7 separate regions of the Homo sapiens genome follow, and all the other regions are linked to region 1. Evidence: fine-mapped expression QTL. A gene starts in region 1. Each other region holds a variant in brackets. All regions are shown on one strand. Distances are between the middles of the regions.

Region 1 (4,117 bases):
TAATTACATGGGTTCAGAAAGCATTTTTTCTTGGCGCTTACTCCCGTCCTGCCCTCATGAACCCTTAGCATTTTTGCACATCTCTACAGCAATGCTTATCTCACCATATATATATATATAATATTATATATATTTACATATAAATATATATATTATATATATGTTATATATTATATATTATATATATTATATGTACATATATATAAATATATTATATATAATATATTTATTATATACATTATATATAATATATATATATACAATATATATATATTTATATATACGTTTTTTAGATGGAGTCTTGCTCTGTAACCCAGGCTGGAGTGCAGTGGTGTGATCTCGGCTCACTGCAGCCTCTGCCTCCTGGGTTCAAGAGATTCTCCTGCCTCAGCCTCCTGAGTAGCTGGGATCAGGGGTGTGTGCCACCATGCCCGGCTAATTTTTGTATTTTTAGTAGAGACGGGGTTTCACCATGTTGGCAAGGCTGATCTCGAACTTCTGACCTCAGGTGATCCTCCTGTCTTGGCCTCCCAAAGTGCTGCGATTACAGGCATGAGCCACCGCGCCCAGGCCTATCTCACTATATTTTAATGATTAACATCCACATCAGGCTTCTCTAGACCTCAGGCTTGCTGAAGATGAGATTAAACCTCATTCACCTTTGGATGCGTGCACCTGGCCCAGTGTCTGACACAAGCTTTGTATTCACGGATGCTTGTGGAGTGGATGAAACAATCTCTTCCCACTCCCTGCCTCATTGTCTGATGAGCCTTCATTACACTCCACTTTCTTCTCTTTGTAAATTAGGATGAGGTGAAAAAGCACAGCAGACAAGATGCGAAGCATTCACGCCAAGTCCTCAATTCACAAACTGATTTGATCTGCTGTTGTATTCCCAGAGTGCTAGGTCCCGTATGGGACACCAACGCCATCCCATATGCTCACTGTTCTGCGCTGCTGTGTATAAAGCCCTGGGCAAGAGGACAAGGGAGGGAAAAACCAGAAAGACTGAGTCAGAGAAGGCTCGGGATGAAATTTGAGTCCATTGGGATCATTCTGCCTAAACGACAGAGGAGAAAGCTTGGGCTCAGGGAGGAGTCCTCCTCCTCCTGGCTCAAGGTCACCGGGACAGACCAGTCAGGATGGGAAAGAACTCCACTTTCAAGAGCAAGACCTGTTTCCCCAGGACCTGGGCCCTGTGCAGACAGGAAGGGGGACTTCAGGATGGATGGGGAAAAGGACACGCTGGGAGGCTGCGGGGCCAGCCTTTGGGGCTTGCATCCTGCGAAGGTTGAGTAACTCCACGGGTCTCCCTTTTGCCGCTATACCACTTGCCAACTGGGTTTGGAGTCTCTTGGCTTGTGAGTCCTCAGGGACCAGAGAAGTGACTCAGTGAACACTTAGTACATCGTTGGCACCGGGGATTGTGTGTGATTCAGGAGTCACTCACAGAGCTTGTGCTGATTAACTCCAGAAACTCACCCAAAGCCTCCTCCCCACCCCTTCAAGCCCAGGATGAAGGGATCAGACTGTGGCTCTGACACTCCTGAAATGTTTCTCACGTGTCCACCTGCCAACCGGTCTGGTACCGACAGAAGATCCCTGGACCGCGAACTCCGGGGCTAGGAGCTTCCTCCACGCACTGCCTCCTTCCAGCGGCCCACAGGGAAAACAGGACCTCGGGACCCCCTCTCTTCCTGACCTCCCCTGGATTCTGAGCGGGCCCACCCTCAACCAAAGGTCCCCTGTTTCGCGGCCCCTGCCTCTCTTTTTCCGCCTTGGGAATTGTCCCCCTCGCCCCCCATCCTACTCCCACTACGTCCTGAGGGGTGTCTGTCTTCTCTGATCGCCCCCACCCCCTTCCTTTCCCTCCTCCTTTTCCTCCCTCGGCTCCTCCCCCAGGCCCCGCCCTCTCCGCCTCGGCCCGCGTCCCCCCGGCGCCTTCCCCATCACCCTCCCCTCCAGCGGGGACAGGGGTGTGGGGAGGGGGGCGGCGGCGGCGGCCCGAGCGGGAGCCCGAGCGGCAGCCGGCGGCCGCGGGAGCTGCGGGGAGCGCGGGGGCGGCCCGGAGCGTGCCGGGGTCCCCGCGCCTCGCTCGCCGGCCGCGCTCCGAAGATGGTGGCGGCGCCGTGCGCCCGGAGGCTGGCCCGGCGCTCGCACTCGGCGCTGCTCGCGGCGCTCACGGTGCTGCTGCTGCAGACGCTGGTCGTGTGGAATTTCAGCAGCCTCGACTCCGGGGCCGGGGAGCGCCGCGGGGGCGCAGCGGTCGGCGGCGGGGAGCAGCCGCCCCCGGCCCCGGCCCCGCGCCGGGAGCGCCGGGACCTGCCCGCCGAGCCGGCTGCAGCCCGAGGAGGAGGAGGAGGCGGCGGCGGAGGAGGAGGAGGACGGGGGCCCCAGGCGCGGGCGCGGGGAGGCGGCCCCGGAGAACCGCGGGGACAGCAGCCGGCCAGCCGGGGGGCACTGCCCGCCCGGGCTCTGGTAAGATGCCCTTTCGGCTCGCGCCCCGCGGCGAGGGAGGGAGGAAGGCAGCCCGACCCCACGCCCCCCTAGCCCTTGAACTCGGTCATCAGACTGGGACTCTGCAAGCCTACCGACTCCACATCGCCTCTTGCCCCGGGAAGCCGGGTGGGGTCCCTGCCAAGGCTCAGGGGTCGTGGGCTGCCCCTTTCAGAGTCTGAGCACGGACCCCTTGGGGTCTGGGGGAAGTTTTCTCCAGCGGGGGCGCTTTGGGGGTTACCGGAGCCTGGCTGGGTTCCTGTTCCCCATCACTCTTGCTGGGGACCCCAGGTGACTTGCTCCGTGCGTGTAGGTCTTGGTGACTCGCTCCCTGCCTGAGTGAGTGGATCTCCCCGGATCCTCAGCCGCTGTTCCTGGGCGGTTGTCGCAGCAGCATCTCTCTGGTTTTTGCCGAGCTGGGTGCAGACAGTTGAGCCCTCTGTTCGTCCTGGCCTGCGATGAGGGCTGAGCTGGGCGTCCCAAGTCCCCGACCATGCCCCTGAATCAATACTCAGTCCGGGGTGTCTGGTCTTACTTTGGGTCTTCTGTTTCTCTTCTCTGGATGTTTGAGCCTTCCGTCTTCACCTTCTCTGTCTCTAACCTTGCCGTCTCCCATGCCCTCTGTGACTTTATCTCCTCCCCATCTCCAGTTTCAGGGCATGGCTCCTTCTCCTAGCTGGTTGTCTCTGTCTTTCTGTCTTGTTGCGGCCGGTTCAGGTCACCAGCTGTGTGTCCGACCACACCGTCAGGGCTTCCACTCCTATGGGATTACTTTGCCCTTCGTGGGTGTGAACAGTCAGGGCTCTGAAACTGTTTTTTCCGCAGATCTGGGGCCATCTGGGTGGCTGGGTGGGGAACTGACTTGTCTTCCTACCCTGTCCCTAACTTCTCCAGGGATACCTTTCCCACCTTCTCTGGGCTGCCTTGCCCAGCCTACTGAGCTAGGAGCAGGAGCACATGGGGCAGGAGGCCGGAGTCCCCATTTCAGAGCCAAGGTCTCAGTTCTCCAGGGGCGTGAGTTCTGCCTTAGGGCATAGCCAATGTGTTGTGTGTCTGTCTGTTTCTTCATCACACTACTTGTCTGCAAGGATTTGCCTAGCCGTTAAAGGATATTAGACACCAGGGGGATGGTTTCAGGATCCTGAAGACTGAATGCATATTTCTATCATTTGTCACTTTGGAAGTCCTCACTGAAGACTGCCTTAGTACACAGCGTGATGCTTTCTGAGCTGCTAAACTTCTTCGGAGTCTGTGCGACCCTTTCTGCCGGAGTGCAGCTCTTCATGCCTGAGAACTGAGCCAGTCCCAAGACGTGATGTGATGGCATTTCACGTTGCTGTGTGGGTAGCAGGGAGAAGTCTTTCCCTCATTTGCGGGGAGAATAGTGGCGTGAGCTGCCTGACGGAGAACCAGAACATTCCTAGTGTCCTGCGATCTCTTCTTTACAGAGAGGGGTACTCTGAAACGCTGCCTTTGAACTCTTGGAGTTGATAGTGATGGGTTCCCGCAGAAATGCAATTAGAAGTTCTTTGTGCATCCAGAGCCCAGGAGGTGGGGTGGGAGGGTTGTGGGTCGTGTCCTGCTGGTCCAGTGTAAGAACGTGTAGGGGAGACATGGTGGG
Region 2 (4,000 bases), 26 kb after region 1:
GGGTTGGTTGAGTCTCCAGGCTGAGTGGGAGTCCCCAGACTTTCACCAGTTCAGAGCAAATCTTTTGAGTCTTTAGAAGGAGTTCCTTGTAATGCAGACGATGGGGTCTTCGCCTACCTCCTTCCAGCCTGATCACCTGCAGAATCGAGGGAAGACATGGGTGTTTCTGAAAGCAGGTCTCACTCCCAAGACTGGGAGGGGCACTGTGTTTTCTGAATATGACACTCTGGGGCTTGTTGAGCCATTTTTTTTTCCTAGAAGAGGCAGCATCACCTGTTGATGGAAACCAAGAGCCTGGGTTTGAATCCTGGATTCACTCCTTCCTAATTGGATGAGCTTGGAGCAGTCAGGTTCCCTCTCTCTGCCTCAGTGTGCCATCTGTAAAGTGAGGATGACAGTGGTCCCTAATCTGAAAGGTTATTGTGAAGAGTCAATAAGTGAGCATTTAAAGATGAAGTACATAAATACATCTATATATCTGTGAGACTGCTGTTGTCTCACTTAGTCATCTTTATTTATGTATGTATTTATTTTTGAAACTGTGGAGCATGGCTTGATGAGCAGCTCACAGAGGCTGGATTTCTCCCTCAGCTGGACACCTTTGTGCAGTGCCCAGCCTGCACAACTGGGCTTGGCAGCCCTTTATAGGATGTCACCTATATTAAATAGCAGGTGGTTGCTCTCCAAAGAAATCTTGCTCTCTCATTTTCAAGCCTGACGAGCTTTTCTAGATCTCTCATATCTATAGGTGCTCACCCAAGTCTACTGTTTGACCGACCACCGTGGCCCGAGCCTGAGTTTCCAGCTGGGAGTTGGAATAGACTCTTGAGCATCCCTCGAGAGGCAGGGTGCAACACATCACCACAAGGCCTGGTGCCTCCTGAAGAGCGGTCTCCCTGCTAGTGTCCAAACTTTGTAAGAGTTCCCCCTCTTTATCCCATTAAAAATAAACACCGTTTTCTTCACTCACTTCAGCTGCTGAATGGTGCCCCTGAGAACAAGCGCTTGTGTTTCCTCCCGTGGGCTCCAAAGGGAGAGGAATAAACAAACTATAAACAGCTGTTTCTCCGCTGGTGACGGGATTCAGACAATAGACCCTCCACGCGTGTTAATCAGCTGCCTTTTCTGAGGCGAGTTTGCATTGAGGCCACAGAGGAGCCTCCATGCTGGGGCGGCACTGGGTGGAACTTCCTGAGCCAGTAGTGAGAGTCGCTCAAAAGAGCCCAGCCCAGGCCTCCACGCAGCCCAGGTGAGCCCGGGGCCTCTCTAGACAGATGTTCTGGCAGCTGCCAGGAAGGGCTCCCAGCCTTCCTTTCTGGTGACTTCTTGAGAGAGGCCCTTGGGCAGAAGAGTGGCCTCCAGCCGACTCACTCTATGTGGTCACCTCTTTCTTTAACAATGGATGGTGCTCACTCAAATGCCATTCATCTGACAAATATTAATATTTATGGAGCAGCCTCTACGTGCCAGGCACTGGGCTAGGTTCTTGGGACGTATCAGTGAACAAGTGTGGCTGATGCCTGTAATCCCAGCACTTTGGGAGGCTGAGGCAGGAAGATCTCTTAAGCTCAGGCTCCTTGAGACCAGCCTGGGTAACATAGTGAAACCCTGTCTTTCCAAAAATCAAACAATTAGCCTGGCATGTTGGTGCCTGTGGTCCTAGCTACTTGGGAGGATGAGGTGAGAGGATTGTTTGAGCCCTGGAGGCAAAGGTTGTAGTGAGCTGAGATCGTGCTACTGCACTTCAGTCTGGGTGATAGAGTGAGACCCTGTCTAAAAAAACAAATGGTGTCCTCCCTTCATCCATTCACTCTTCTAACCCATTTTTATTTTACCAAATATTTAGTGAGCACCTACTATGCTCCAGGTGCCATAGCTAGGTTCTAGGGACACATCAATGAACATTTGAAAGTGCATGTCTGCCCTTTATCCATTCATTCCCTCAGTCTGTATTTTGACAAGTACTCATTGAGCACCTACTATGTGCCAGGCACTGCACTAGGTTCTTGCGACACATCTGTGAACATTTGAAAATATATGCCTGTCCTTCATCCATTCATTCCTTCCAATAGTATTTATTTTAACAAATATTTATTGAGCATCTACTATGTGCAGCATGCTCTCCTAGGCACCTACAATAAAATGG[T/C]GAGCTGGGCATGGTGTCTTGTGCCTGTAGTCCCAGCACTTTGGAGGCCAAGGCGGGAGGATCACTTGAGACCAGGAATTCCAGACCAGCCTGGGCAACATAGTGAGACTCTGTCTCTATTAAAAAAAAAAAAAAGAAGAAGAAGTTAGCTGGACATGGTGGCATGTGTCTGTAGTCCCAACTTCTTGGGAGGTTGAGGCAGGAAGATCACTGAAGCCCAGGAGTTTGAGGTTACAGTGAGCTGTGATCACCATTGCAACCTGGGTGACAGAGTGAGAACCTGTCTCAAAAAGACAAAAAAAGTAGTGAACAAGATAGAAAAGGTCCCTATACTCCAGTACTGAGGGTTAGACTGTAAATTATAAACATATAAATAGGATTAGTTTAGCAATTAGTGGTCTTCTAAAAACCACTGTGTATTAGACGGTGACTATGGTGGGCTGAGACTTGTTTGGCTGGGATGACCAGGGAAGGCCTCCTTGAGGAGGTGATATTCGCACTTACACCTAAACATGAAGAGGAAACATTATGAGGACCTCTGAGGAAACAGATTTCCAGCCAGGAGGCACAGAAAATGTGAAGGCTGGAGGAAGCTTGGGATTCAAAGAGTTGATGAACGGCCAGTGTGCCTGGTGGTCATTGAGTGAGGGGAGCCTGGTGGGGGAAAGGAAGAGGGGTCAGTGGGTGAAAATATGGGGAGCTTTGAGATTGAGACCAAAGCAAGGAGTTTGGATTTTATTGAGAGTGTCATGGAAAAGTATTGGGAGCTCAAAGCAGGAAAAGGATCAGCTTTGAGCTTTCAAAAAGAAAACCCTCTAGTCTAGATATGATGACAAAGTGCAAAGCAGTTTGGATTGGATCCTGGAACAGAAAGAGGTGTGTATTTATATAATGTCCCACTCCTGCTAGATAGGTTAAGACCCATGGGGTTAGGTGATTAGTTGTATCACTACGTTTCTAATGCCTGTCATGTAGCAGGAACTTAATATATGCTGTATTAGTCCATTCTCACACTTCTATAAAGGTACCACCTGAGGCTGGATAATTTATAAACAAAAGAGGTTTAATTGACTCACAGTTCCGCATAGCTGGAGAGGCCTCAGGAAACTTACAATCATGGTGGAAGGCAAAGAGGAAGGCAGGCACATCTTACATGGTGGCTGGAGAGAGAGACAATGCAGGGGAAACTGTCAGTTTTAAACCATCAGATCTCGTGAGAACTCGCTCACTATCATGAGAACAGCATGGGGGAAATCACTCCCATGATCCAATCACTTCCCACCAGGTCCCTCCCTCGACACGGGGATTACAGTTCGAGATGAGATTTGGGTGGGGACACAGAGCCAAACCATATCAGATACTATATCATGTATGTTTATATTTTATATCATACTATATATACATACTATAAAATGATGATAATATAGGTAGCAAGTACTTACTGAGCATTTACTATTTGTCAGGCACATGCCAATTCCTTTGCTTCAATTAACTTTTAATCTCTGCCACCCTGTGAGGTAACTACAATTTTCATACTTATTTTACAAAAGCATTTAAGACCCTTGCCTGAGGTCACAGAGTTGAGTCGAGATTTGCACCCAAGCGGTCTGCTCCAATGCGTCCAGTCCTCAAATGCTGAGCTAACTCTGCCTCTCATAGAGTGAATGCAGAATGAATCAATAATTTGTATCATCTTTGCTGATTAAAGTAACACACGTTCACCGAGAAACATTTAGGAGATGAATATGTGAAGAAGAAAATCCAAATCCCCTATATTGCCACTCTCAGTTTAGTTTTGGAGGAAGGTTAAGCCATGAAGTTGCTAATTTGAGTAGGAATAAGGCGATCTTGTTT
Region 3 (4,000 bases), 110 kb after region 1:
TCTGGGCATGCACCCAACACCCCAGTCTGGTGCTTTGCTAGCACTTGGCTTGGAGATTGAGGCTAATTTTGAGGCTGAGATGCAGCTTCTTATCTTATAATCAAAATCGAGGTGGTAAGATCTGAATGGACAGACAGACAGACACAGACTACTCTGACCTGAACAGCAGATGTTGCATGCTCTCGCCCACTAAGCTCGTACCAGGTCTGACTCATGCTGCCACCCACAGACCAGGAGGATGGTCTTGCTTCCCAAAGACAAAAATGGGTCCTGCCCCAACACAGGGAAACAGGAAGTACAGAGTAGACTCTTTCTGCATGCGAGTGATACAAAACCTGCCTGATCAAAAGAAAGTTGCTCTATGAATGTCGGGTTTTACCAATCCTAGCTGCCACTTCTTCACCCCTGGGAAGGAATCAGTAAGGATTTGAAGAGACAGGCCCAAAACAGCTCCTTCATGACTTCCCCAGATTCCTTTATAGGTCAAGGCTGCAATGTGGGGAGACGGGGAGAACATATTCCCCTCCATGTTTTCTTGGGTATGAGGAAGACTCAATGCCTGGGGGAATGTGAGAATTAGAGTGGGATGTTCTCTTGGCAGTTTCCTTTCAGTTACACCAATGGAGAATTACTGGGAGTTGGACTCAGAATTGGAGTTGGGGGACGACGAATTCCTCTTCCTAAAGGACAGAGCTGAGCAGAGCTCACCGTATTTCTGAGATCGTGCCTCTTACACTCCTCAGAATTGGGCATCATTACAAAGATACCGTAGAACAGTCATCAAGACAGTGAATGGCAGCTCACCTAGAGAAGGGGTTTAGAAAGTTCCAATTTCCCTGCATTTCCTTCTTGCTCACAGTATGGGACAATGGGCTGGTGCTAATTTGCATGGCTTCCTAAAACCCCGTGGTGGAAAATCTGCTAAGACAAAGCAAAGCTTCAAACTGGATGTGTACTTCAGGGCCCTAAAATCATGCCCATTCTCTATCAGAGGAAGCTTGAGGTTGTTTTTCCCAGAATTATAAATCCAAGATGATTAAGTTCAGAGCAGACGTGGTATAGACAGAAATAGCCTTCATGTGCTGGGTTTCCTGTTTTCTTTGGAAACCACTCACTGGACACCACCAACTCCTCCCATCAGTCTTTTCCTCCTCCTGTACCCTCCCTGTCTCTCCTCCAACCCAAAGGGTTCATGCTTAATGACCCGAGACAGTACCACCAAGCATTCCCAGTCAATCGGCTTTTGTACAGAGTGAATGAATAGGACATTTCTCTGGCCTTCTCTATCCTAAAAAAAGACCTTCCCCAGACCATGGAATGTGCTCCTCAAACCAGAAATTAAGCTGCTCGCTCTCATTCCTTCCCTTGTTCTTTCCAAGATCAGACACAAATTGATGATGGCCTTGTTCCTAGTCAGGACTTTATATTCTTTCTGGTTTATTCCTAATCCTCTTACGGAGCCAAACTCTCCTTATAGAGGGTTTGGATACACGTTGAGCTCTTTGGCAAGGGTGCCTTGTTTCTTTTTTCTTTACATTTTGTTGTTTTGTGTGATCTCCATGTGGGCATTTCCTTCATAAAAACTTGAGCCTCTTTCATCACTTGTGCGTGAGAGGAAGTGTTGGGGCGGCCTGCAGACTG[G/A]GCCAAGCTGTCCTGATGTCTCTGTAGAATGGAGGACACAGGTTGGGCTGCCCTCCCCGTGGGGTGGCTTGACCACTGGGGAAATCAAGCTTTGTTTGAAAATGATGCTGGGAGCTTGGCGTGGTGGCTCATGCTTATAATCCCAGCACGTTGGGTGGCCGAAGTGGGAGGATCATTGAGGCCAAAGTGTTGGAGAACAGCCTGGGAAACATAGCGAGACCCCATCTCTACAAAAATAATTTTTTAAAAAAGCCTGGCATGATAGTGCATGCCTGTAGTCATAGCTACTTGGGAGGCTGAGGTGGGAGGATCACTTGAGCCCTGGAGGTCGAGGCTGCAGTGAGTGAGCTATGATCATGCCACTGCTCTCCAGCCTGGGCAACAAAGCGAGACCCTGTCTCTTAAAAAAAAAAAAAAAGGAAAGAAAGAAAAAGATGCTGGGGTAGTAAGTTAACTTTTTTTCACTCCTCACGTGCATTTTCTCCTTTCATCCTACAGGATCCACACCCAAGTCCGCTCATCACCCTGGAGACTCAGGTAAGTATCTTTCCTGTCTTGGCCACTTATCTCAGCCTTAGTATTCCAGCTCTCAAGGGGACTTGTCCCGTGGCTCTGAAAGGCTGGACAGGCCCATGGCTGCCCCTGGTCCCATTTGGATGTGTGTGTGCCTGCACATGTATGTATACACACTGGCATATAGTGTACACGTGTGTGCAATGGTGTGGGTGTGCATGGGTGCACATTCGCACCCAGGTGTCTGGTGCCCCTCCCACCTGTGGCGAGAACCATAATCATTTCTTTTGAGTTTTCGTCTGTCCTTCGCTCCTGCCCAACCATCATGCGGAGGTTCATGCAAAGGAGAGAGGAGACAGAGGAGAGCCATGAAGTGGGAAGATGCTACTCTTTGATGCCTGAACTTGGAGGACTTTTATTCCTTGGCAGTGAGGGCAGCATATGGAAGGAAGTTGCACCCTTTCATCTGCTTGCGTGTTAGGCCATTCTGAGGAATTGTGATTGCAGTGGCATTTCCGTGTGGGGAGGAGGATGACCAGCGGGTCTTGTAAGGGAGGGCACGGCCCTGACTGTCTGCTTTCTGCCTTCCTGGGAGCTAGGACAGTGCAGCAGCTATGAGTATAGGCCTTGGAGTTCAACAGAGCCAGGTGGAATTCCACCTCTGTGTCTTCTAGCCCTGCAGTGTTCATGGGGCCACATAATGTCTAAGCCAGTGTCTTCGCATCTGAAACGTCATCCCAGTGATAGTGCCCACCTTGCAGAGTTGTGGTTGAGGGTCACAGGAAATGATGTTTATAAAGTCCGGGGTACGTGCTAAGTGCTTGTGAGTGGTAGCGTTTTTTTTTTTTTTTTTTTTTTTTTTTGAGACCGAGTCTCTGTTGCCCAGGCTGGAGTGCAGTGGCATGATCTCGGCTTACTGCAAGCTCTGCCTCCCGGGTTCACGCCATTCTTCTGTCTCAGCCTCCCCAGCAGCTGGGACTACAGGCGCACGCTGCCACGCCCGGCTAATTTTTTAATATTTTTTCTAGAGACGAGGTTTCACCGTGTTAGCCAGGATGGTCTTGATCTCCTGACCTTGTGATCCGCTCACCTTGGCCTCCCAAAGTGCTGGGATTACAGGCATGAGCCACTGCGTCCGGCAAGTGGCAGCTTTTTAAACCAATAGAACTGTTACTTTTCCTGCTGGATCTGAAGGGGACGTTTCTTATCTTTGGATTAATCATTTCCTTAGCTCTTTGGGTTTGGCTGACAGTAAAGAGAGTAGGCAGACAGGACAGGCCTCGTTCAGAGCCCCACAGTGAATAGCTTGCAAGTGTCAGACACAGTCAAACCTGTTCGAACGTTTCAAGGCTGAATGACAGCTCAGCGATTTCAAGGGTTTCTGGGGTGGACTGGAAAAGACCACCTGCTCCCCTGGCCTTTGCCTCCTCCACCTTGGGTCCTTGCCCTCTCCTTGGCATCTCTGCTTGGGTTCTCCTAAGAGGAATGAGGAGACCTTCCTTGCTTCCTCCCTGATGGGGAAGGCCAGCAGATCTTCACAGTTTCCTTGTGCTTTTCTGTCCTTGCATTCTCTGGCACACAGGTATAGCCACGGGGGCCCCAGGGCTGACCAGGCGCCAGGGCCGGCAGGGAAGTATAGAAGGTGCAGCTCTGAGGAGGAAAAGGATTCGGTTTCCTCTGCCTGTTTGGCTGTCCTCTGGCTTGGTTTTGTCTGTCCTTATCACCTTGACCACCTTTGCCTTATGTAAATTTCATCTATTCTATAAAGTCACCTAAAAATACATTTTTCCTTAACATAACTCACTTTGCTTTCAGAAATAGACTTACCTTAATCTAATGGTTCTAA
Region 4 (4,117 bases), 380 kb after region 1:
GCTCATGAGTTCTCTGAGGTGTAGATGGGGACTCCATCACCTGCCACCACTCAACCCCAGCTTTCTTTCAGATCCCCCCCAAGGAGTTGACTCAGCCTCCCTCCACCCTTGCTCACGCTATGCAACCCCTTGGCATATACATGAGTGGCCCCCGCCCAGCTCTACCTTCCAGAGCCAAATGACAATATGCTGCCTACTTGGAAGGCTTCCTATATCACACAGACCCTTCCTTGACTGTCCTTCACTGACATCTCTTCAATCAATCAGGGCTGCTGGAGGGAAAGCGAGTCCAGTATACTGCAGGTTTGCCCATGACTAGGCTGACACTACTTCATGGCCAGCCTTGGGCTGCCCTACTGGGGGAAGTGTGTCTTCCCAGTTGGGTTATGAAGCTTATCTAGAAATGGGATCATATCTTCTAAACCCTAACCCACTCAAAGTGTGCTCCATGGAGCACAGCATCCCCTTGGAGCTTGTTAGGAAAACAGTCTCGGGCTGTACCCCAGACCTACTGAATCAAAATCCTCATTTTAGCAAGACACCTGGGTGATTTGCAGGGATGCCCATTAATGTTTGAGAAGCACTGATCTATACCTTTCAGGCATCTAGAACAGGTCATTGATTCACCAAATAAGTGGTTACTAAACAGTATTTAAGGAACTGTGACAGAATTTAGAAATATTCTAAATATTGTGAAAGGAAGTAAGTCTTCATCCTTGAAGAACTCATGGTCAAAGAGATAGACAATGACAACTCAGTGTGCTAACAGCTAATTTAGGGGTAAGTGCAGGAACTGTAAGGACAGGATACAAGGGTCACTAATGTTCACCAATTCTTTGAAACTCCTTCTTTCAATGGGTAGAGCATAGTTTTCTTCCCCCTTAAATGTGAGATGGATTGACTGGAATTGCTTCTAACAAATAGATTACGATAGAAGTGTGTGACTTCAGAGGCCAGGGCATACAAGGCATTGCAGCTTCCCCCAACTCTTTCTTGAATTGATCATTCTGGGGTGTATTAGTCTGCTCTCACACTGCTAATAAAGACATACCCAAAACTGGGTAATTTATAAAGGAAGGGGGTTTAATGGACTCACAGCTCCACACGGCTGGGGAGGCCTCACAATCATGGCAGAAGACAAAGGAAGAGCAAAGGGACACCTTACATGGCAGCAGGCAAGAGAAAGCTTGTGCAGGGGAACTCCCCTTTATAAAACCATCAGATTGGCGAGGCGCGGTGGCTCATATGTGTAATCCCAGCACTTTGGGAGGCTGAGGCGGGCTGATCACCTGAGGTCAGGAGTTTGAGACCAGCCTAGCCAACATGGCAAAACCCCGTCTCTACTAAAAATATAAAAATTAGCTGGGCGTGGTGGCACACACCTGTAATCCCAGCTACTTGGGAGACTGAGTCAGGAGAATCGTTTGAACCTAGGAGGCGGAAGTGGCAGTGAGCTGAGATCGTGCCACCGCACTATGGCCTGAGTGACAGAGTGAGACTTCATCTCAGGAAAAAAAAAAAAAAAAAAAAATCAGATCTCATGAGACTTATTCACTGCCACAAGAACAGTATGGGGGAAACTGTCCCCATGATTCAATTACCTCCCACTAGGTCCCTCCCATGACATGTGGCAATTATGGGAGCTACAATTGGAGATGAGATTTGGGTGGGGACACACAAACCTTATCACGGGAGAAGTCAACTGTCAGGTTGTAAGGGCATTAAATAGTCCTATGAAGAGGCCCACGAGATGAGGAACTGAGGCCCTCTGCCAACACCCATGGGAATGTACCATCTTCAAGGCAGACCCTCCAGCCCCAGTCAAGCTTTCAGATGACAGCAGCTCTGGCCAACACCATGACTACAACTCATGAGAGACCTTGATCCAGAAGCATACAACTAAACCACTCCTGAATTCCTGACCCACAGAAAATGTGAAATGTTTGTTGTTTTAAGGTGTTAAGTTTGGGGTGATTTGTTAAGCAGCAGTAGAAAGCTAATACAGGTACCTAACCACATCCTGAAGAAACAAGGAAGGCCTCCCACTAAAGGAAGTCATCTCTAATCTAGGACCTGAAGGGCATATGGAAGCTAGTCAGGCAATGCAGGTAGGAAAGAATGTTCCAGAGAGGGCAAAGGCCGGCTAGAGATTATGTGACACTTCGCAGGAATTAAAAGTGATTTAGACACTGGAGGAAGAATAGTGACAGATGATGCCGGAAAGGCTTCCAGGGATCAGGTTTTGCAGGCCCTCAGGGGCTATAAAGGAAAGCCTTGACTACCTTGAGGACTATGTGGGATTTTCATCAGCATGAGAGTGACATGGACAGATTCACACTTTGAAACATTTATTGTGGTATCTTGGGAAGAACAGGCTGAAAGAGAGGCAAGATGAAACATGGGGAGACC[G/A]GAGACCAGGCTACTAAAACAGTCCAGGTAAGAGATTACAGTAATTTGGACTACAGTGAGGCTTCTATAAACATGATGTGCTTATTTATTGCTTGGAGATGTGACTGCACAGCTGACTGGAGTGTCTTCTGTTTCCATATATGCATATTTACTCTCAGTTGCTGACTGGCTCTGCACCTGTTATCTCAAGTAGGACTTAGAGGTGAAAGGTAAAGTGGTAAAAAAGAGGATCTGTATCAGGACACTGGCCAGCACCCCTACTATCCCCCAGAAACTGAGCCTGTGAAGCGATTAAAAGTCTGGATCTTAGAGGGAGCTCCAAGGAAAACTAAATCCAAAATGCCTCATCTGGGAGGTGAGGACAGTAAAGTCTCCTCCCATGCCTCCTCACTCTCAAAAGATGATATTTTCTCTATCCAGAATAGACAAATCTATATATAAAGTAGATTTGTGGTTGTCTAGGACTGGAGGTAGGGTATGGGGTATAGGAGGGTGATAACTAAAGATTGCTGAGTTTCTTTTTGGAGTGATGAAAATGTTATAAAATTGACTGTGGTGATAATTACACAACTCAATATACCAAAACCCACTGATTTGTATATTTTCAATGGATGAATTCTATGGTATATGAATTATATCTCAACAAAGCATTTTTAAAATATGTGTTTATCTCATATTTAATCAATATACAAGTATCAGATGGAAATGCTGCTTGACATTATATATTTACTTCATTATTGTCTACCAACCTTAGGTAGAATGTATGCTTAATGTGGATGGAACTTTGCCTGTTTTATTCACCACTGGTACCCCTGAGTCCAAAACAGAGCCTGGCATCTAATAGGTGCTCAAAAAAGATTCCTCGAATGAATGAGCATTTTGACCAAATCATCTGAAGCAAATCCTCTTTGGAAAAAGCATCCTTCCTCCTTTCAAAGATCTGTGGGGGTGACACTGTGTTCCATAAAAGTAGCTTGGAGCAAGCTGCCACAAGTAACCTATGATATCGACATCCATGCAGAAACTTAATTCCCAGCAGCTTTGGGATCCAAACATCACACTGGTGGGCTCCTCTTCCATTTGACACCATCCATTTTAAGCTAGCGGAGTCAGCACCAATTAGTACTCGTTAATCTAATTTTCATGAAACTGGATAAGCAGACACAGAAGTTCACAGAGTAGAACAAATTGCTCAAAACCAGAGCGAAATACCTCTTCTATCTTCTTAGCCTCGTAAGGTATAAGGAGCTCTTCCAACAGCAATTGGAAAGCAGGTAGCAGTTCATGGTCACCTTGTATACAGACTTACTGTCTTATCAGAGGCTTAAGCAATGGGAGGTCACATAATAACAGGCCCTGTTAGGCTGGTGGGGAGCCAGAACACAATAAATGAATTATGGCACCCCTTCCAGTTATATGTATTCTGATGCCTGTTCACAAACACGCGTTCTTTCATTTAGCCTTGAGATGTGAGTAGGAATGGATTCATCTATCCAATGGGTGAGGGCATGAAGGCAAAAGGTGTTGGATGACTCATTTATGAACCCAGAGTTAGCGCAAGAGTCCTTGTAGCAAACTTGCTAAGCCCATGAATTTTAAAATCAGGCCCAAGTTTGAATGCTAATTTTGCCACTATTCTCTGGCCTTAGACTGATAAGTGAATGTCTCCAAGCCCCAGTTTCCTCATCTGCAAATTTAGCAGCATCTA
Region 5 (4,117 bases), 91 kb before region 1:
CCATTTGTTTTGCTATTACAAACAGATACTTGTTTATACCTTTCCCTGCATGCATTATAAGAGACTCTCTGGGGTCTCTCAGTGGGATAACTGCTGTGTGGGAAAAGCATGACATTTTGAGTGAAACACATGAGGTCTGGAGTCCAGTTCTATGACCCTCCAGCTTGGTGACTCTGATGGTTAATATTGTCAACTTGATTGGATTGAAGGATGCAAAGTATTGTTCCTGGGTGTGCCTGTGAGGGTGCTGCCAAAGGAGATGTGAGTCACTGGACTGGGAAAGGCAGACCCACCCTCAATCTGGGAGGGCACCATCTAATCAGCTGCCAACGCGGCCAGAATAAAAGCAGGTTGAAGAACATGGAGAGAATAGACTGGCTGAGTCTCCCAGCCTCCATCTTTCTCCCTTTCTGGATGCTTCCTGCCCTGGAACATCGGATTCCAGGTTCTTCAGCTGTGGGACTCTTGGACCTTTGACCACTGACTGAAGGCTGCACTGTGGGCTTCCCTCCTTTTGTTGTTTTGGAGCTTGGACTGGCTTCCTTGCTCCTCAGCTTGCAGATGGCCTATTGTGAGAGCGCACCTGGTGATTGTGTGAGTCAATACTCCTTAATCGACTCCCCTTTATATATACATCTATCCTGTTAGTTCGGTCCCATTAGAGAACCCTGACTAATACAGTAACTACGGGTGAGTCTTCCAACTGTTCTCTGTCCTGTGTTCTGCATATGTAAACTAGGGAATAATGATGCTTCTGTCGTTATGATAATAACCATTGTGAAAATCAAAATAAATCATGTCCATCAAATGCTAATGGAAAATCTGAGCACATAATAGGTTCTCAGGCAGCATTTCCCCCTTCTACTTTTCCCTCCATTCTTCTCAGTCTAATTATTTATTAAATTGTGACTATTCTTCATGGATCAAAGAGGATAATGTAATAGGTAAAGGCTTGTGAAATTACTGTGTTTATCAAACAAAACCAATCGAATATGCATGCTACCACACAATTCAACATGATATATAAAAGTGCTTTGGAAAGTGAAAACCAACCCTCATTCTTTCATTCATTCATTTATTCACTCATCAGATATTTTCTGAGGACCTATTTTGCATCTAACACTGGACCATCACGAGATTGAATGAACAGGCACAGACAGAGACTCCCTCTTCATGCAAATTGTCAATTAACCAGAGGGAAAAGTAGTGAGCAATTAGCATTGCAACTAAGTGCAAAGTGTGATAAGTGAGAGGAAGGAGAATAATAGCAAATAATAATCTTAGCACTGTGTATCCTGCACTGAAATCATTTTAATCCTCACAACATATGAGATAGGGACTATTATTATGTGGATCAGAGTCCTGGTAGGTAGCAGATGACACTGTCTGAGCCATTACTGAGGCTAGTGCAGCGAAGGGACAATTTACAAAGGTGTGGGCAGGACCCAAGGAAACCAACAAGGGACAGTGAAGCACCGAGGCGCTGGCCACATCAGGGAGCTGTTACCACCCTTGGTGCTGAAGGAACACCGGAGGGACGCTTTCATTAAAAGTAATGGCCAAAGGCCAGGCACGGTGGCTCACGCCTGTAATCCCAGCACTTTGGGAGGCCGAGGCGGGTGGATCATCTGAGGTCAGGAGTTCCAGACCAGGCTGGCCAACATGCGAAACCCCATCTCTACTAAAAATACAAAAATTAGCCGAGTGCATCCTGGGTGCCTGTAGTCCCAGCTACTCTAGAGGGAGGAGAATCACTTGAACCCAGGAGGCAGAGGTTGCAGTGAGCTGAGATCACACCACTGCACTCCAGCCTGGGCGACAGAGTGAAAC[T/C]CTTTCTCAAAAAAAATAAAGTAATGGCAAAGACCACAATTACCTTTGCACCAACCTAATAGAGCCAAGAACACAGCTGTCCATCAGAAAGCTTGAAAAGAGGAACTCAGCGCCACCCAACAGGTAAGCATGTAAGCCCAGGGGATCAATCAATAGTCCCATCTCCTCTCTGCCTGCCTCTCATTGACTGAATCCAGACAGAGGACATGAGAACCAACTGATCAGCCAAAGGAATGTAGAACATGGTAGAAAAGTTGACCAAATAGAGCACATTCCGCACAATTGTTACCCCACTTACAAAGGAGGAAGCTGAGGCACAGAGGAAAAGAAAGAAAGTATCAAGATAAAAGACCAGGTGCAGTGGCTCACGCCTGTAATCCCAGCGCTTTGGGAGGCCCAGGCAGGCAGATCACTTGAGGCCAGGAGTTTAAGACCAGCCTGGCCAACATGGTGAAAACCTATCTCTACTAAAACTACAAAAAGTAGCTGGGCACGGTGCTACTCGTGAGGCTGAGGCACGAGAATCGCTTGAACCTGGGAGGCGGAGGTTGCAGTAAGCCAAGATTGCACCACTGCACTCCAGCCTGGGCAGCAGGGCAAGACTCTGTCTCTAAATAAATAAGTAAATAAAAGGTAAAAGACAATGAGGCAGGGACAACCTCTTGATATTATGATATTATGAGATCTAGGAGGGCTTCCTGGGGAGGTGAGTTGGACAGCAAGAAGGGAACCAGCAGAAGGAAGAATGTTCTGGAGAGAAGGATTTGCCTGTGTCAAGGTCCCATGTAAAGAAAGTTCCAGGTGTGTTGGAGAAAGGAAAATAAGGTTAGAGTGGCTGCAGTGCTAGAGCAAGTTGGAGAGAGGCGCGTGAAAAAGAAAGCACTTATTATTCCAATGGGTAGAATCTGTGCCCCCAGGAGAGTGGCTGGGATGCTCCTCAGGGCTTGGCCCCCTAATCCTTGTTCCCATTCCCAGGAGGCAGACTCCAGGCTGCTTTCTGCTCATCAGGTCTCCCCACCTGTGCCTAGAGTGGCCGCTTCACAGCTGAAGGGTCTTGGCAGGATGCCCCGACCGGATGAACCGGCTGGACTTGCTGCTGGGCCTGGAGGCCCCCGCAACTCTGCCGTCAGTCCTGTGAATGATGAGGATGGCCTAATGGTGCGGAATGTGTTTAAAATGCAATCCAGGTGCCAGTCCTATTCTGCATGCATTACCATTAGGGAGACTCCATCCTCGGCCGAACAGGACTCCCGTATCCACAAGGGCACCACTGACAGTGAGATGGCACTGAAATTGACTTTGGAGGGCAGGTGAGAAGGAGCAGACGGAAGGGAAGCAAGGGCACCTCTACTCTGGGTGCCAGGGGATCACTCCAGGTCTCAAAAACTCTGCTGTTCCAAGCTCCTGCCCATGCCCGCAAGGAGTGATGAACACCTGTGTGGAAAGAACAACGTCTTCTAGCTGGGTTTGCAGGCTGGAACCTGGGTAGGGGCATTATATAATTTACATATATGTTTGTAATAACGTTTACCTCATTGATAATGTTTACCTCATTTATGCCAAGTGCAGAAACTTGAAGTTTACTGAAAACTACAAATAAAACATTACTCACTATGAGTGATGAGATATTCCAGCTGTCTCTCCTTTCCTTCCTTCCTTCCTCCCTCCTTTCCTTCCTTCCTCCCTCCCTCCTTACTTCCTTCCTTCATTCCTTCCTTCCTTCCTCCCTCCTTTCCTTCCACTTTTTTCTCCCTCCTTCCTCTCCCCATCTTATTATCCACCTCTATCAACCCATCTATTTATACATGTATCTAATCACAAACAGCTAATTATGGAGTTAGCACACATTGAGCACCTAATTCAATAAATGATTCTAAGTACATTAACTCATTTCGTCCTCACAAAAGCCCTTTGAGTTAGGCATTTTAATGATTCTCATCTTAAGATGGTGAAACTGAGGCACTGAGTGTTTCTTTAATTTGCCAGAAGTTATCATATAGCTAGTAAGTGAGAGAGTGAAGATTTGAACGTAGGAAGCCTGGCTCCAGACAAAGGCTGAAAGAATAGTATAGTATAATGACCATCTGCGTATCTTTTGCCTTAGATTCAAAATTGTTGACACAGCAATTTCTGCTCTCTCAGGAGCTCTCTCTCTCTCTCTCTCTACACACACACACACACACACACACACACACACACACACACACACACAATGTTCTTCTGAACCATTTGAAAGTAAATTTCATATATCATGATGCTTCACCCCTGATAACTCAGCATGCATCTC
Region 6 (4,000 bases), 110 kb after region 1:
AATGTTAGCTGGTATTTTGATTATTGTCAATATTGACTAGCTATGTGACCTTAGGCAATTTGCATTAATATGGGGGTGATAAATTCTGTTGCTTGCAGTAGCCAGGCCAGCTACTCAGTCTGGAGCTGTTTTCTTGCAAGAATACACATCCAGTGTTGCTAAATCTTCTGTTCTTAAAGGAGACGTGAGAAATCTAGATTTGCATGTGAAGTATCCTGGTTTTAAAACATTGGCAATGAATGATTTCAAGTATTTCATCAAGGCTGCAGGCCAAAAAAAAAAAAAAAAAGCAAACCAGCTTGAAGCATCCACAGGCCACCAGTTGGGCATTCTTGTCTTAACACTCTGTAGCTCAAGCCTCTAATCTTTTCAGGTAGGTTTCTTCAAAACCTTGTAATTCTAAGATGGTAATTCTGTGTACTTTTTAAAGAATTACAAAACCTCTTGAGGCACACACAGAACAAAGTATTAAATACAGGAGTTTAGATTTTTGATAACCATTTGTGCTCAAGGATACACATACCAAGCTGGAGAAGCATTAAGATAATTCCCAAGTTTCCATGAGTCTGTGGTTTCTCTATCTTCCAAGGCTGTGGGTGATGAATTGCCATCTCCAAGGGCCTAAGCTTCATTTTAAGGTTCTACTGCTCATTTCTGGGTCCTGGGCTAAAAAAATGTAGAATGAAAGTAGGATAGCAGAAAGACCAGCTTTTTAAGCTTTTAATACAAAAGAGAGAAAGAGAGCGCGCAATACACCCAGTTTTAACTGCCAACGTTTCTGTAAAACATTGAGAATCCCCTTGTTCTCTCTGTGGGGTTTCTGTTTTCTCCCCTGAGCCCTATTTGAAGGTGAGTTCACATTTTCCAACAAGGTGAGGGCTGTGTGATTCTGGCCTGCATTCACATTCCAAATGCAGTCTTTTTTAGAGAACAAGGACACCTCTGTATCACTGGCATCCCTCCCTCATCACCCCATGCCGCCTGCCCTGCACGTGCCCAGCCTTCGTCTTAGGAGCCAGTGTGAAATCCCATGGGGACATCTGAAGAGAAAGCCCCGTTATGCAACACCTTGGTTGCTGCAATGAGACCCTAAGAAGGAGGAGTTGAAAAAGAGTCCCACTTCCCTGAGGAGGAAATGCTGGAAAGTGGAGGGTGGTAGCCAGGTTTTTTAGGGCAAGGCAAATCTCTTCACCAAAGTGGGGAGAAGGGAACACTTTGCACCCGTCCTGGAAATTTCTTGGGGGTGCAGAGCGTGAACACCAACGCTCTTAAGAGTTTCACGCATGCATCCGACACTTGATGGCTGGCTGGGGATCAGAGGCAGGAATCGTATTCTTTGTCAGTTTGGAAGCTTTTTCAGTCTTGCATTACACATGGTAGAGTTTAGGTATCATGTAAAGTCTCTCCGGTTCAGCGTACGTAAGAATCCCCCAAGGGTGTTTCATAACAATGTAGATTCCTTGGACCCTTGCCCAGAGATTCTGATTCAGTAAGTTCATACTTTTGATTAACACCAGGATATCGGTTAAAGGACTAGTTTCTGGCAACTTACAAACTTGCTTACTGCTCCTGGCTCCATTCCTGATTAGCCCTGTGTTTTTGAGCAAATTATTCTCTGAGAGTATCAGTTATCTGATCTATAAAATGGGGATCATGATACCTCCCTTGGCAGCGTTGCAGGAATTTCGTATGCTTGGCATAAAGTAAGCATTCAAAACGAATTAGCTAAATTTGCTCAGTTCACTGCCGTCACGTGACATAGGTTGCACTCGTATCTACGGTAACTTGCAGTTCAGAAGACTTGTGGTTTAGTAGGGTTGAGTATAGAGGGATATGTCTCAGCCTTTGTAAGCCTGGAGGAAGAAATCAAAGAGAAGATCATTT[C/T]TGAGGTTGTAACTATGTACAGTATTTATTTTTATTTAATGTTCACGACAACTCATGATGTCAGTGGTATGCTGTGTTCAAGACAAAGAGGAGCCTATCTTAGGGTTTCCTGGGACAGTCTGGGTTTATACCTGTTAAGCTTGTATAATTATTAATAGTGTCCCTTACAAAAAGGTCCCAGAAAATCTGTTTTCCACTTTGTTACAGTAGCTCTGTTGGCAAGTATAATCCTACCTGTTTACGTGGGGGTCAGTGAGAAAAATAAAGCTCACAGAAGCTAAGGACTTTGCCCAAGGTCGCAAGTGGTGCTAGGTGGTTGTTATGGACTGAATTGTACCCCCACCCTAATTTCATATGTTGAAACCCTTCCTCCCCCAATACCTCAAAATGTGACTATTTGGAGATAAGGCCTTTACTGAGGTGATTGCATTAAATTAATGGGGCCCTCATCCAATCTGACTGGTTTGTTTATAAGAAAAGGAAATTTGAGCCAGGCCTGGTGGCTCATGCCTTTAATCCCAGCACTTTGGGAGGGTGAGGCAGGCAGATCACCTGAGGTCAGGAGTTCGAGACCAGCCTGGCCAACACGGCAAAAGCCCATCTCTACTAAAAATACAAAAATTAGCCTGGCATGATGGTGCACAGCTGTAATCCCGGCACTTTGGGAGGCTGAAGCAGGTGGATCACTTGAGGTCAGGAGTTCAAGACCAGCCTGGCTAACATGGTGAAACCCCATCTCTACTAAAAATATTCTAAAAAATTAGCTGGGCGTGGTGGCAACCACTTGTAATCCCAGCTACTCGGGAGGCTGAGGCAGGGGAATCGCTTGAACCCAGGAGGCGGAGGTTGCAGTGAGCTTGGATTGTGCCACTGCACTGCAGTCTGGGCCACAGAATGAGACTCCATTTCTGGCACCCCAAAAAGAAGAGGAAATTTTGACACATAGATACCCGGGATGCATAGAGAAAAGGCTGTGTGAGGAAACAGTGAGAAGGCCACCATCTCTACAGGCTAGGAGGAGAATCAGACCTCAGAAGCCAGACCTGCAGACACCTTGACCTTGGACTTTCAACCTCCAGAACTGTGAAAGGATAAATCTCTGTTGTTTAAGCCACCTCACCTGTGTATTATTATAGCAGCCCTAGCAAATGAATACAGTGGTTATGTATGGTTTGAACTCTGGGGCGACCCCTAAACCTGCCCTCTTTTCCCACTGAATAATTCATCTTTGTCCTGCACTACTAGGCCTGCAGCTAAGTGACAGTGTCCCTTTAGGTTTCTGGCTGGTCATTCAGACTTGGCTAGAGCTGGACATTCTCCAGCAGGCTCGAGTCATGAGTGAGTTTTCATTCGCTGTGATCTGCAATCCCAAGAAGAGTTTCTTAGATTTTCCAAGTTATCTGGTGGTTGGATGATGAGTGACAGTGAGACACCATCTTTTGATGGTGGAAGATTCCCAGTTCTGGCCTTAATTAGAGGGCTCTTGGCGGAGAGAAGGCACCAAGCCAGCCTTCTGAAGTGTTCCCTGGGAGCGTCTGTGGAAGAAGGTAGCATGTAAATGTCCATTGTCTATGTTGTTGATTTGGTGGGCTTCACGGAGATACCTGGCTCTGAAGGCGTGAGTTCCAGTGTCATTATCTCTACACCAATGTCATTGCCTAACACCAAAGAACAAGCACTGTCTTCTGAATGTCCTCAAAGCAAAGGAAGAGAACATGCTTTCCAATGGCTGAGGCTTAGCTCAGGGCTCAGAATCCGCCAGGAGAGCCAGATAGGTTTGATGTATGTGTGGAATGATAACGAACAAAGTCCTCCTCCTCTCTCTACTTTCTTTGTTGGGGCTTAATTGCTTGTTAAAATTAAGCCTTTGGCCTTGAGCCTGGCTTCTTGGTCTTACAAGCAAGACTTTTGAGGTGTAGACAAGTTTCATTGCTCTAAGACCTGTAATCAGGCTCCTGCCTCTTATTTAAACAGTTACCTTTGGGAATAGCAGTGTACACAGAGTCACTTTAAACTCATTTCTGTCTCCCTCATGGTGCCTGCCACGCATAGAGCTAGCTACTGAATCGGAACTTAGTAAACACGTGTGGATTGATTTAGCTAACTTTACATGGTT
Region 7 (4,117 bases), 370 kb after region 1:
AAACACCGGGAATATTTTCCAAATTACACATCCAGACTGATCCACCTACTGCCAATTTTCAATTGCCTCTGACCAAAATAAGAACCCCTCCCCCAACTTAAGGGTCAGATAATCCTGTGTCCAAACATTTGTTTTTTTATCATAGATTAGCTAAGTCAGATTTGAGACAAATTCCCTAATCTCTCTGGGCCTCAGATTCCATATATATATATATATATATATATATATATATATATATATACACACACACACACATATATATATACACACATATATATGTATATACATATATATACACACACATATATATGTATATACATATATACACATATATATGTATATACATATATATACACACATATATGTATATACACATATATATACACATATGTATATACACATATGTATACATATATATATACACATATATATACACATATATATATATACACACACACACACGTATAGGGGATAATAATTACCTATAAAGCTGCTGGGAGAATTTTAAAAAGACAAAGCCTGTGAAATAGATAGCCTAGTATCTGCATACAGAAAGAGCTCAGTAAATATCAGTTATTTTCGCCTTCTCACTCCAAAGGTGAAAGTTCCTTGAAGGCAAGGACAGTGTCTATATTCTCGGCACACATTACATGCCTTGACAATGTAAGATGTTGTGCCAGTGTTTGATGAATGAATGAATGAGCGTGTGAACTGGACTGCTGCTACATCCATAATTTCCTCAGGGGCGTTCCATTTAGTCTGGCCTCCACATTTGCTATTGCAGACTGGATATCTTCCTGAAGACTCCATTTGCGACAAAGTGGCATCACCTTGACTTCAGAGATTTAAATGAGATTTTTTCAAAACACCCCAAACTGTGGGAGACACAGTATTGCCCCCCAATCTCTTTGGAGGGTCTTGGGGAGTCAACTTCAGCTACAACCCTGGGTCTCATTTCCACTGAATTGGTTCATTTTACAGATCACCCCTTTATTCTGCAAGTTCTTTTTTTTTTTTCTCCTTTCTGCACTGTATGACCTCTCCCTAATAAGTACCCTGGTCCCTTTATTCCTCAAAATACAATTGTAGAGCTATGTAGAAAGCAGATTCCATCAAGGCATTCAGATAAAGGATTGCATAAGATTTCAAATGATTTAGAATATTACATACCCCCATTCTCAGAAGTTTTAGAAATCTCTCAATGGCCACCTGCCTGGGCAATTTCCAGCTTCCAGACACGTTTCCATCTCCCTCTCTTTATTCCCTGCCTGTTCTGTCTGCTCTCCTGCACCTCCCAAGACACTCTGTTATCTCTTTTCACCTTGCTGACTCTTCGCAGACCAGCCCCCCTCATGACTTCACATTCCACACCTAAAAAATACTGGAAAGCTAAGTTCTCTCGTAAGTTCCAAGCTTCTATGTTCTTACCTGAGAGGAGATCTGGTGCCAGCTATGATGACAATTACTACAAAACACTCTCCCTCTCCACTCCAATTACTCGGATTTAATACAATCCCTGGCTTCCATGCAGTGTCTGAGCATTTTGGCTCTATTCCCTAGGTGGTGCTTTTAAAAATTTTTTTGTAAAACCTCTGGGGCCTCCTTCACCAGCAAGAAATTATTTTAGCATCACTGGCCTCAGTCTCATTCTATCATCAGCATCTGCTAATTTAATCAAGAATGAGTTGTGAGCAGGGAGGTTGCAGGTATCCAAAGATGAAACTGGATGAATTCCAGGAGCAAGAATTTCTCAGAACTAAGAACATTGACATTGCAAGGTTGGGTCCAATAAAGTACACTTCTTCCTGCCAATTTCATTTTTCAACCTTGACTATTCATGGTTTGGATCAGCAGATAGTAATATCACCTTTGTCATCAAGGAGCCTAGGATTTATTAATCTAATATGGGTATCGGCCCAAACTTGGCTTCAAAGAAACAGGAGAAGAGCAAACAGGGACATTAGAAATATAGAGCCCTGGGTTTTGGTGCGGTCGCATGAGATGCATCAGGCGCTTGATGTCCCTGAGTCCCGGTGCCTCAGCTGCCCAGTGCCCACGTTCATAAGAAGGCAACAAATTCTTCTCCTCTACAGAAGGATTTTGCAAACAATTTGGCAAGTTCCAAATGATTCTGATTGCAAATACCTGAAGGACTGGGCAAGGGAAGAATTCAGAAGAAACAAAACTGCCACCGAAGAGGATACAATCCGGTTGATGATTACTCAAGGCAATATGCAGCTCAAGGAGTTAGAAAAAACACTTGCTTTAGCAAAATCTTAACTATAGCATTATTCTGA[C/A]GGATTTTCAAAGTCTCCATGTATTTTGTTTCATTTAGGATTGACAGTGGACAACACAAAGCCCAGTCTTACTATTTGTATGTACAGTATTTGGTGATAGAGAGCAAAGGAAAACACATCAAAACAGTTGCCTTAACACTGAAAAACATACCCTGCATTTTGAAAATGTTTATGGATGTCTCAGCAGTTTTTTAAAGAAGAAAAAACCACTAACAAATGGCCAGTAGATGCTGGACACAATCATTAGGGAAGTGTAAATCAAAACTACTATGAGGCCGGGCACAGTGGCTCACGCTTGTGGTCTCAGTACTTTGGGAGGCCAAGGTAGGTGGATCACTTGAGGTCAGGAGTTCAAGACCAGCCTGGCCAACATGGTGAAACCTTATCTCTACTAAAAATACAAAAATTAGCCTGGTGTGGTGGTGCATGCCTGTGGTCCCGCCTACTTGGGAGGCTGAGGCAGGAGAGTCACTTGAGCCCAGGAGGTGGAGGTTGCAGTGAGCTGAGATCGTGCCACTGCACTTCAGCCTGGGTGACAGAGTGAGACTCTGTCTCAAAAAAAACAAAAACAAAAACAAAAAACAAAAAACAAAACAAACCCTGAGATTCACATTCATTAGAATGGCTGTAGTTAAAAAGAGAAATAATAGTAACTGTTGGTGAAGATGTACAGAAATTGCGGGTGGGAACGTAAAATGGTGTAGCAACTTCAGAAAACAGACTGTCAGTTCCTTGAAAGATGAAACAGCTGCTGTATGATTTAGCAATTCTACCCCATGCCCATAGCCATTATTTGGCACTAAAAAGAAACAAAGGATTGATATATGCTAAACGTGGATAAACCTTGAAAACATTAAGTGAAAAAAGCCAGTCACAAAATATCACATGATGATTCCATTCATATGAAATGTCCAGAATAAGCAGAAAGATTAGTGGTTGCCTAGGCTGGCTGTAGGTAGAATGGAGTAACTGCTAATGGGTGTAGGGTTCCTTTTCAGGGTGATGAAAATATCCTACAGTTAGCTTGTGGTGTAGGCTGCACAACTCTGAATATACTCAAATCCACTGAATCATACATTTTAAATGTAAGGTATGAATTGTATCTCAATAAAGCTGTTATTAAAAAGAAAAAACTCTGAGGTGTAGGACTGAAAGTACACTGACACCAGGAGATACCCTGGAACTTTCTCAAAAAATCCTGCATTATCCCTGAGGGTTGTTCAGGTATGTTCTTCACATGTGTCATAGTTTGATAGAGGACTCATCAAAAAGATCACTACTTGGAATCTAGATCTTTGTTGGAAAGGGAAGAGAAAGAGAAGCTTAATGAGCACATTGAAGTACTTAACAGAAAGAAGAGGGAAGACTTCTGGATGAAACCTCTGTGTGTACCTTAACATTCACGTGGAAGTAGTAAAAATAAGATTCTGGGTGCAGTTCTCCTCCAATGACAGGAAAAAAAACAAAGAGAATTTGAAGAATACGTTAGAGACAAATACATTACAACCAAAGTTGACTTCAGGGGACTTTTGAAGGAGATCAAATTTATAACAAATAATTTAGTGAAAAATGTGAAAGTGAAAGCTTGTGGAAGATGCTGGAACATCCATCCTGAAAATTGAAGTCTTCTGTTCGTCAACAGAACAGCTAAGAAGCTAATCTAAGAATGACCAGCACCTGAAAGATGTAGACAACATTTTGCAGAATGATAAATGGTATTCAGTACTGGACTGTGCCTGAGGAGAGGCTTCAACTGAATGTGGATGTTGATGACCTGGACTGTCAGGGTCCACCTCTACCTCCCAGAGCCTCAGAGCCCA

Alleles and levels. Alleles are on the strand shown, and positions count from the first base shown. SD is a standard deviation of normalised expression in the study named. Not every link is listed here.
With allele G in place of A in region 4, the expression in monocytes after LPS of the gene that starts at base 1,952 in region 1 is higher (large effect, 1.2 SD a copy in Fairfax 2014).
For the expression in CD4 T cells of the gene that starts at base 1,952 in region 1, allele A in region 7 goes with a lower level than allele C (large effect, 1.0 SD a copy in Kasela 2017).

Evidence for each region. PIP is the estimated chance that this variant, and not a neighbour inherited with it, causes the effect. A credible set is the group of variants that fine-mapping cannot tell apart.
Region 2: its variant is the best candidate, but not a certain one, in a credible set for the expression of XYLT1 in tibial nerve (GTEx, PIP 0.87).
Region 3: its variant is the best candidate, but not a certain one, in a credible set for the expression of XYLT1 in whole blood (TOPMed, PIP 0.90).
Region 4: its variant is the best candidate, but not a certain one, in a credible set for the expression of XYLT1 in monocytes after LPS (Fairfax 2014, PIP 0.59).
Region 5: its variant is the best candidate, but not a certain one, in a credible set for the expression of XYLT1 in unexposed skin (GTEx, PIP 0.70).
Region 6: its variant is the best candidate, but not a certain one, in a credible set for the expression of XYLT1 in T cells (TOPMed, PIP 0.58).
Region 7: its variant is the best candidate, but not a certain one, in a credible set for the expression of XYLT1 in CD4 T cells (Kasela 2017, PIP 0.82).

The regions. Positions count from the first base shown.
Region 1 is chr16:17,468,795-17,472,911 of GRCh38, reverse strand. It overlaps XYLT1 (xylosyltransferase 1), which reads left to right and starts at 1,952. Exons shown (of 12, transcript NM_022166.4): 1 at 1,952-2,478. The coding sequence starts at 2,116. It overlaps LOC107987234 (a long non-coding RNA gene), which reads left to right and starts at 2,485. Exons shown (of 2, transcript XR_001752091.2): 1 at 2,485-4,117. It overlaps LOC105371106 (a long non-coding RNA gene), which reads left to right. Exons shown (of 3, transcript XR_933144.3): 3 at 808-1,905. RefSeq lists enhancers at 1,457-1,958, 2,733-2,782, 2,903-3,172.
Region 2 is chr16:17,442,794-17,446,793 of GRCh38, reverse strand. The region is part of intron 1 of XYLT1 (xylosyltransferase 1); the gene reads left to right. Among named protein-coding and RNA genes, the nearest start is that of XYLT1, 26 kb to the left of the region's middle. The variant T/C (reference allele first, on the strand shown) is at 2,147.
Region 3 is chr16:17,356,190-17,360,189 of GRCh38, reverse strand. XYLT1 (xylosyltransferase 1) reads left to right here. Exons shown (of 12, transcript NM_022166.4): 2 at 2,140-2,178. Among named protein-coding and RNA genes, the nearest start is that of XYLT1, 110 kb to the left of the region's middle. RefSeq lists an enhancer at 88-177. The variant G/A (reference allele first, on the strand shown) is at 1,642.
Region 4 is chr16:17,087,809-17,091,925 of GRCh38, reverse strand. No RefSeq gene overlaps it. Among named protein-coding and RNA genes, the nearest start is that of XYLT1, 380 kb to the left of the region's middle. The variant G/A (reference allele first, on the strand shown) is at 2,410.
Region 5 is chr16:17,560,059-17,564,175 of GRCh38, reverse strand. No RefSeq gene overlaps it. Among named protein-coding and RNA genes, the nearest start is that of XYLT1, 91 kb to the right of the region's middle. The variant T/C (reference allele first, on the strand shown) is at 1,831.
Region 6 is chr16:17,362,351-17,366,350 of GRCh38, reverse strand. All of the region lies in intron 1 of XYLT1 (xylosyltransferase 1), which reads left to right. Among named protein-coding and RNA genes, the nearest start is that of XYLT1, 110 kb to the left of the region's middle. The variant C/T (reference allele first, on the strand shown) is at 1,885.
Region 7 is chr16:17,094,364-17,098,480 of GRCh38, reverse strand. It overlaps the pseudogene TCERG1P2. Among named protein-coding and RNA genes, the nearest start is that of XYLT1, 370 kb to the left of the region's middle. The variant C/A (reference allele first, on the strand shown) is at 2,298.